Linked DNA regions of Homo sapiens. The protein of the gene in region 1 purifies or fractionates together with the protein of each later gene. This does not show direct contact. Each region holds a gene or a part of one and is shown in the gene's direction. Other genes may lie near its edges.

Region 1 (5,379 bases):
AAATGTGTTATCATTCAGTGAAACAAGAGCACATCAGGTTGTTCAGCAAAAATCAGAGCAGTTCATGATTTATAATCAAAAGCAACTCACGAGGATTTACCCCTCTGCCTACCGCATTGATTCCAGTAACTTCAACCCTCTCCCCTACTGGAACGCAGGCTGCCAGCTAGGTGTGTATTCCTTGGGAAGGAGTGGTTCTCTGTATATTCTCACTATGCCACCATCTTGCCTAATTCTCTCCCACTTTCAACTTGCACAGTGGCACTGAATTATCAATCTGAAGGACGAATGATGCAGTTAAACCGAGCCAAATTCAAGGCAAATGGCAATTGTGGCTATGTCCTCAAACCCCAGCAAATGTGCAAAGGTGTGTATTAATTTCATAGTCATAAATGCAGGTGTGTGTTAATTTCATAGTCTAAATGCAGGCAACCTTTATTAAGGAAGCTGTTTAGAAAGTGTGATACCCCAGAGTTTTTCAACTTTTTTTTTTCAAAAAGATAGGTTAAGGTGTTTGAATGTGAATTAGAATTCTTGTCACCACTACTTAATATTTGGTTAGCCGTGATGTTTAGAATGTTATCTTGAGAGGTCGTGTGTGAAAGAGGGACATGGATAGCATTGGGTTATCACTTGAAATCCAGTGCCCCATATAAGCTGGACTGCTTTTTAAGGTCTGAGCCCAATCTTTCAGAAACTATCTTAAGTAATGTGAGTCTGTGACCTGCTGGGAAGCTTCAATTCCACCTGAAACAATTTTATCAAGCCCTTTTACTCAGTGTAGTCCAATTACAAAACAGTGCTAACAAAAGAGAAAGGATAGGCTGGGCATGGGGGCTGACGCCTGTAATTCCAGCACTTTGTGAGGTCAAGGTGGGCGGATCACCTGAGGTCAGGAGTTTGAGACCAGCCTGGCCAACATGGTAAAACGCCGTCTCTACTGAAAATCAGAATTAGCTGGGCATAGTGGTGCGTGCCTGTAGTCCCAGCTACTTGGGAAGTTGAGGTAGGAGAATCGCTGGAACCCAGGAGGCAGAGGTTGCAGTGAGCCAAGATCACACCACTGCACTCCAGCCTGGGTGACAGAGTGAGACTCCATCTCAAAAGAAACAAAACAAAGCAAAAAAAGGATAATGTGTTAGATCAAACAACACTTTCTTTTGGTTCTGCTCATTAAAATTATTTTTAAAATTTCCAAATTACATATATAACAATTCAGATAAAAAAGTTGTTGACAGGATTATCTTCAAGATTTTACACTTTGCACATTTTCTTGCTCTGCTGTTTACTTAATTTCAAGTCTTCTTTCTGTTTGTTATATTCACTCATGCCTGAGATAGTTTAGGTTAGAAAATTATTTGAATCTGACATAATTGTTCTTCTTTTTACACTGTTGGTGTTCAAATAAAATGCTTCTCTTCCTTCATTCCACAGTTGATCATTGCATTGCAAACACTTGCTTTAAGTTGGCCCACTCCACTGGCCTTTGGCAACATGGTTTCTAATGAAAACCACAGCTATGCCACACTGATAGTTATGTGATCATGTAATTCAGCATTTGTTTTTGTTTGTTTGTTTCTTTGTTTACAAGCTTAAGCTGTGCATGCGTGTGTGTTTCTTCTTATGTTACCAACTTATACTTTACTTGGCCTAGGTACTTTCAACCCTTTCTCTGGTGACCCTCTTCCTGCCAACCCCAAAAAGCAGCTCATCCTGAAAGTTATCAGTGGACAGCAACTCCCCAAACCTCCAGACTCCATGTTTGGAGATCGAGGCGAGGTAAGTTGCCTATGACTACGTGTCTAAGTGGTTAATTATGTGATTATCTTAGTGCATTTACATTTTATCCGAAATGTCTTCAGAGATGTATGTGTGTTCATAACTGAGCACTGACCTCAGCTTATCAGACATTAACTGATTTATTGGTAAGTCACACAGTTCTTGCTGTACTGCTGTCCATCATCTATTTTGAAGGCATAAGAGCACACAATTGAATTCACAATTTAAGGTTGACACTAGCATTGCTAAAATTGGAGTGCAAAGACAATTATATTATTAACAGAACAACACCTAAGAGTATATCTTAACCTAGAAAGGCAATGTTCCGTTAATAATATAACCTCACATTCCTGTCCTCCTGCAATGCTCCTCCCTGCTGCACATCAGCCACCTGCTCCTTGGCCATGTGCTGATTCTTATTATCATCTGCTGTACCTGTGTCGCGTGATTTTAAAATGTCTTCATCTGCGGCCACAGTCTTTTTTCTTTCCAGAGCTCTTAGCCCATTGTTTCCATTATACCTTCTTGGCTTCTGTTTTCTCGCTATATAGCAGCTTCTCCTATGCTCATGCCCTTCCTCTCAGAGCTGATCCATTACTTCAGGTTCTTTGTCACTCCCGCCTATTAAACCATCATTTTTGGATCTTAAGGAAGGAAATCACAGAGCTCTACAATTTGGTACCGCCATAAATGCTTTAAGAAGTCTACTTTCTCTGCTTTAGACTTTCTTAGGTCAGCTCTTTCTAGATTCTTTGGGTTTTATTCCTTCATTGTTCGTCGCCCAGAACTGGTACCAGAAAGGAGAGTCTACAGATGACCAACAATACAAGATATTTCCCCCTAGAGGAGAGGATGGGAATTAAAGTATAAGAATCAAACATGCATAGCTTGATTAATTATTATGCCACCCAGATCAAGGCAGAGTATATCCAGAATCCCTAGAAGGCTCCTGTCCACCTTCCCAGTCAATATCTACCCTCCCCACTGCCTCTCATAGCAAACACCAACCCCTATCACAGCAGACAAATTTTGTCTATTCCTAAACTTTATATAAATGGACTCTTAGAGTAGGTACTCTTTTATGTCTGGCTTGCTCAACGTTATGTTATATAGGAGAACTTTATTCTTTTCTCATTGTTGAGAGTATTCATTGAACACATACTTCTGACCAGGCACGGTGGCTCACATTTATAATCCCAGCACTTTGAGAGGCTGAGGTGGGCAGATTGCCTGAGCTCAGGAGTTTGAGACCAGCCTGGACAACATGGCAAAACCCCATCTCTACAAAAATTACCAAAATTAGCCAGGTGTGGTGCACAATCCTATAGTCCCAGCTACTCGGGAGGCTGAGGTGGGAGGATGGCTTAAACCTGGGAGGTGGAGGCTGCCATGAGCTAAGATCATGCCACTGCACTCCGACCTGAGCTACAGAGTAAGACCCTATCTCAAAAAACAAAATAACAAAAAACAAAAAACGTATATTCCACAATTATCCATCCTACTCATGATAGAAATTTAGGTTGTTTCCAGTGTTTGACTATTATAGATACAGCTGCTCTCAGCATTTGTGCATGGGCAAAACATCTCAGTTCTGTTTGGTATTTGCCCTGAACTAAAGTTGTAGGTTCAGTGGGTAAAGTTGTTGGCGTTAATAAATACTAGCAAACAGTAATTTAATATTTTTTATACTTGTCTCATATATCTGAATCCACCACACCTAGTACCATTTCTTTTTCTTACTAAGCACCTTGTAAAATCAGTTGCTGTCGAAATGTAGACATTTTGGCCAATATTCTCAGATTAATTAACATATGTATAGAAATATGTTATTTGTAATAGTACTTTCTCTTTACTTAATAGATCATTGACCCTTTTGTTGAAGTTGAAATTATTGGATTGCCAGTAGATTGTTGTAAAGATCAAACCCGTGTGGTAGATGACAATGGTAAGATGGTAATCTGTGTTCACTTTTTAATGAAGATGGTCTAGAAATAGAATTTACACTAAAAAAAGTGTCTATGTAGAAGAGCAAGAAATCTCTAAAATCCGTAACTCCCATCTGAGTTTATGTTAAAAGCTTTTCAACACATAAAACTAAGTAACTGTGGAATTGATGCGTGGCTTATTTTTATGGTATTGTAATCTAGGCTCTCTAGACTTTTGCTTTTAAAGGAAATTTTTTTTCTAGTAAAAAGAGTAAATGATATTTTAAAGAATTGGGTTAAAAATTCACTGAGGAAATGCCTCCATTATATGTTTATATTGTATTTTTATGACATGCGTTTTCTCAAAGCTCTCATTTGTGAAGCCTATGTGTCTTGATAATTTCTCACTTTTTCTGGAGCATGTAAAACTCTAAAGGCAAGCACAATATAGTCTGGCGAGTTTACTTCTTGAATATTTACATACGATTGGAGGGGCAGCATTCTTCTTATATTTTCGCCATAATATAAAGAAATTTTTCTTTACCCAAGCCTCATGTCTTTTTATTTGTAATCTTTTAAAATTTGTTTGTTCATACATTTCACAAACATTATTGTATACCTATTTTTCCTCAATCTCTTGTGATTAATACTGTAAAATACATTTGAAGCACAATCATTAATTTGAGAAATTAAGGGTTCACAAGGAGTCCCTGAAGGAACACTACAGTTTCAGAGTAGGGCAAACCTATAACTTAGGAAAAACATGTACACAGAAAGAAACCTTCTCAAATTGCATTTTCCCACCGATGTTCAATAGATTCTTCTTTCTTTTTTTAGTCTCAGAAATAATTGAGAGGTCATCACTAAGTCAACAAAAAGATCTTCTCTGATTCAAGAGAGGTATCTCAGTGATTTTTCAGCTCATAATTATTTCATTAGCTCGAGGCTTTTTGATAGGGTTAAGTGGTTGATACCTCCGAAATGCATACATTTTTAAACACTTATTTTCATTTTTAGAAAGGAAGAAAAACAGAAACTTATGGAGTACTTGAATTTTTAACAACTTTTATAGTTATTTTATTGGAGAGAATTTTACCAAGTAAATGTATTTTTGCATTTTAGTATTTGAGGTGAATTATATACCTTATTAACTTATTTTTCAGTAGCTGTGAAAATATGCCATCATTCATGCAGTAAGGTCTTGCTTCGTGAGAAGCTACTGGGAATCAATAGTGCATGGTCTAATTTGACCCTGTCACTAACTATAAGGCCTTGTGTGGCCTTGGGCACATTATTGTCTATGAACATCAATTTTCTCAACTACAAAATGTCTTATAAATACTGATATTCCCTACTTTAAAAGATGAGTGTTACTTGTACAGTTTTTGAAAGTAATATATTTTTGAAAGTCAGTAATATATATTTTTTAATTAGAAAGAAACAAAAACCAAAACCCTGCTCTACTCTAAAAACTCTAAACATCCTCTAAAAAAAACTTAGAGAATTGCTATAAGAAATAAGAGGATGTATGTACAATAGGAGTTGAAACCTGCAAATGCACCTTATAAAATGGTTGTTGGTGGTTATTACAGCAGCAGGATCTTTGGTGCATGAGAAGCATAATTCTGTTGGGAGAGGATATCATTCTTTATTGTTTTGTCTAAAACATTATTCT
Region 2 (3,877 bases), on another chromosome or scaffold:
AGCCAGGATGGTCTCCATCTCCTGACCTCGTGATCCACCCGCCTCGGCCTCCCAAAGTGCTGGGATTACAGGCGTGAGCCACCGCGCCTGGCCAAAAAATAGGACCTTCTTCTCAGAATTGTGAGAATTAACTGAGGTGGTTAAGATAATCACATAGAACGCTAAGAACAGTGCATGATGGCAGCTATTGCTGTTGGTTGTAATAATGGTAGTGTGTTTTAAATTCTGACTCACAAGACTGTCTCAGTTTCAGTGTGGTCTTACTGGGTTTTTTGTTGAGTCCCTAGGAAGGTAAGTGTCTCAAGGAGTAATGTTGCAGGCCTCAGTTTCTTTCTGCACATTGGGCCTCACAGACTGAAGGAGCCACTGATTGGGACTTGGAGAGCCCCAAGTCTGGCTCTGGAGCTGGACCCTACCCTGCTTGTTGTGTGGTTCCTAAGAGTCCTGCTCTGCTCTCAGATGGGGCTCTTTATGGAGTTTGGCCCTGAGGACATGCTGCTGGGCATGGATGAGGCTGAAGATGATGAGGACCTGGAGGCTGAGCTGCTGGCTCTCACAGGGGAAGCACAAACCACAGGCAAGAAGCCAGCACCCAAGGGGCAGGGTGAGTTTGGACACAGGGCTGGTCTTGGTGCTGGGACAAGATGGGCACAGGCTGGTGGTAGAGGGGTTCCCTTGCAGCTGGACGGAGCCAGCCAGATCCCCTGGTCCTTCCAATACCCATCTGCCGCACTCCCACCAAGAGGCGGCCTCGCCCTGCTTCCCCACCTTGTGTCATGGCCTGGGCTGGCCCCTCCCCATTGTGGACAAATGTGTTTCTCAGACTGACTCAGGTCCCCATCCTTAGCCCTAGCCACGGTATTGGTGTAGGGTAGGGGCCCAGTTAGCACAGACTGAACTGGGTACATAGGAAGTACATAGAAATTGTGTCCAGCGAGTTAAGTGGAATCTCCCTCCACAGCCCAGATGAGAACAGAGACTTCAGGCCTGGGAGGATCAGGAGGTCTAAATCGTCCTCTCTTTTCACCGGGAACCCTCAGAGAATCCCCCCACTCATCCCCCACCATCCTGTGTGTCCCTGAGTTGAGGATAATGGGAGGACCTAGGAAGGGGCTCACTGCTCCTGCCTTGGGGTGGCACAAGCCTAGGTTTGAATCCTAGCTCTGCCACTTAAGGATTGCAGTGATAGGAAAATTAATGTTGGAAGTTTCTCAGTTTATTCAATATATGAAAAGGGGATATTATCCATCTTGCAGATTTGTTTTGAAGCTCTGTTGGACTTTGAAAATCTTTACAGATGTGAAAGGTGTTGTTGGAGGTTGGAGAGAGTGGATGGCCATGTCTATGTCAGGCTACCGTAGGCAGAGGTGCAGAGAAAGGAGCAGCTTGTTGCTTGGTGGGGGGCCAAGGAAGGTTTCCCTGTTGAGGGTCTTTTGAACTGGGTCTTAAAGGAAGAGCAGTTTTCCAGGTGGGACTCTGCTGTGGGAGGGAAGAGGGATTTCTGCCTGGGTGGATCTACCAAGCCCCTCCTTTACTCATCCCTGAACTTATCTGAGTTGTGCTGACTTGTTGTGACCTTTTTCCCCCAGCCCCCCTGCCCATGGCCCACATCGAGAAGTTGGCGGCAGACTGTATGCGGGATGTGGAGGAGGAGGAGGAGGAGGAAGGGCTGGAGGAAGATGCAGAGCTGCTGGTGTGTCTGCCAGGCTGGTATCCCAGGGCTCTGAGGCAAGCTTGGGCCTGGTGGAGGAGAGGGCAGTGGAGAGGAGGCTGGGGGTGCCCCTGTATTCTCTGACTCTGAGTGAGTGCTTGCCCCTCCTGGCTGTACAGTGGGTGGCGTGTCTCTTTGACTTCTGGTCTAAGCTCTGCAGTTGGGGATTCTCAGATTTGGAGTAATTACTATTTTCAAGGCTATCCTCGGTCAGATTAAAGAAATGTTTTGGTGAAGGGGACTCAGGCACAGTGACTGACGTTAGGGAATATTGCTGAGAGAGAGGGTCCTTTACTCTCAGGTCCTGTTGTGGGTATGGTCTTGAGGCCCCCAAGCTCCTGGGCTGTGTTTTGTCTCCCTAGACGGAGCTGCAGGAGGTCTTAGGTGTGGACGAGGAGACTGAGCCCCTGGATGGTGATGAGGTAGCTGACCCAGGCGGCTCTGAGGAGGAGAACGGCCTAGAAGACACTGAACCTCCAGTGCAGACAGCCGTCCTGACAGCTTCAGCCCCAGCAGCTCAGGTGGGTTCTGGAGGAGGGCCCCTGTGCCTCTGATGCTCCTGTGCGCCCAGACGTAACACGTGTGTGGCCTGGCCTGCACAGCAAGGCTGCAGTCACCCTTTCCAGGACCCTCCCCCAGCAGCCGCCCCAAGCAGAAACTGAGCACAAGAAACTCCTCCGTGGCAGCCAGCCTCAAAGGCCTCTCTGTTCTCCTAGACTACCCCCCGGGAGCCATATCCTGGCTTCCACCAAGTGGGGCTCTGTATTTGCCTCTGCCATGGCCTCTGGCCTCTCCAGTGAGCCTTTGCTTCCTGCCTTAAGGCTTTTAGGCTCTTCTTTCTCCTGGAGTCCCAGAGCTCCATCTTCTAGGGCAGCTTCCGCAGAGGGAGAATGGTAGGCCTAGCAGGCCCTGGAGTGGCCAGGCCCTTAGCTGAATTGTTCATAGGCCGGAGCATCTCAGGGGCTACACGCTTTGCTGGAGGAACGGATTCACAACTACCGAGAGGCTGCGGCCAGTGCCAAGGAGGCAGGCGAAGCAGCCAAAGCCAGGCGCTGCGAGCGCGGCCTGAAGGTGAGTCGGGCTAGGCTGGGAGCAGGGCAGGGGAGGGGGCTGCATGAAAGGCGGCTGGTGGAGATCGCACCAGTGGAGGGGAGGTCACCCCACCAGACTTTGGGGGTTGGGGGGCCACCCCTGGCCTGTCTTGGAGCAGGGTCTGGGCTGAGATGGCTGGCTGGGTTTCTGGACCAGTTCTCTCCCTCAGACCTTGGAGTCGCAGCTAGCCTCTGTGAGGAGAGGCAGAAAGATCAATGAGGATGAGATCCCACCTCCAGTGGCCTTAGGAAAGCGGCCCCTGGCCCCCCAGGAACCAGCCAACAGGAGCCCTGAGACAGACCCTCCAGCTCCCCCTGCCTTGGAGTCAGGTATCTGCAGATGCCCAAATCCTGTTCTAGTTCCTGGGGTCATAGCCCACAGCGTGTGTCCCCAGCCTGCCACCACTGTTCATTACCATTGGTCACATCCTCCCCAGGACATCCTCAAGCCAGTGAAGTCCGTGGGCACCTTCTTCTGTGACCCTCATGTGCTCTCTGGGGACTGTTTGTTTCCTTATAGACAACCCCTCCCAACCTGAGACCAGCCTCCCTGGCATTTCTGCCCAGCCCGTTTCAGACTTAGACCCAGACCCGCGGGCCCTGCTGTCATCCCGACAGAGAGAGTACAAAGTGGCTGCCCTCAGTGCCAAGCGGGCTGGAGAGCTAGACCGTGCCCGAGAGCTCATGAGGATTGGGAAGGTATGGCATCTGGCTCAGGGCACCCACCCTCATTTTATAGATAGGGGAAACAGGCTCAGAAAGGGAGCTAGACTGAGATTGAGTGAGATTGGCCTAAGTGGGGGTTGTTTCAGCCCAGGCTCTTGGGGTCCCCTGTCTTTCACCCACACCTGCTTTTCCAACTTCTGCAGAGATTCGGTGCTGTCCTGGAGGCCCTGGAGAAGGGGCAGCCCGTGGATCTGAGTGCCATGCCCCCGGCACCTGAGGGTCAGTATGTATCTTCTCAGGCTGCGGTGGGGTTGGGGAGGAGTAGCAGGCCTGGGGCTGGCCAGGCCCTCCCACCTACACCTCTACTCTGGGTCCCCCAGATCTGAAGCCCCAGCAGGCTTCTCAGGCT

Evidence for each region.
Region 2: the proteins of PLCH1 (region 1) and CC2D1B fractionate together in Homo sapiens (co-fractionation; one large-scale study listed by BioGRID). This does not show direct contact.

The regions. Positions count from the first base shown.
Region 1 is NC_000003.12:155,489,129-155,494,507, reverse strand, and holds part of PLCH1 (1-phosphatidylinositol 4,5-bisphosphate phosphodiesterase eta-1), read left to right. Parts: coding exon 1-170; intron 171-259; coding exon 260-367; intron 368-1,654; coding exon 1,655-1,779; intron 1,780-3,639; coding exon 3,640-3,724; intron 3,725-5,379. UniProt on the Homo sapiens protein: The production of the second messenger molecules diacylglycerol (DAG) and inositol 1,4,5-trisphosphate (IP3) is mediated by calcium-activated phosphatidylinositol-specific phospholipase C enzymes.
Region 2 is NC_000001.11:52,359,329-52,363,205, reverse strand, and holds part of CC2D1B (coiled-coil and C2 domain-containing protein 1B), read left to right. Parts: intron 1-459; coding exon 460-604; intron 605-1,589; coding exon 1,590-1,693; intron 1,694-2,073; coding exon 2,074-2,232; intron 2,233-2,656; coding exon 2,657-2,782; intron 2,783-2,972; coding exon 2,973-3,132; intron 3,133-3,322; coding exon 3,323-3,501; intron 3,502-3,671; coding exon 3,672-3,747; intron 3,748-3,848; coding exon 3,849-3,877. UniProt on the Homo sapiens protein: Transcription factor that binds specifically to the DRE (dual repressor element) and represses HTR1A gene transcription in neuronal cells.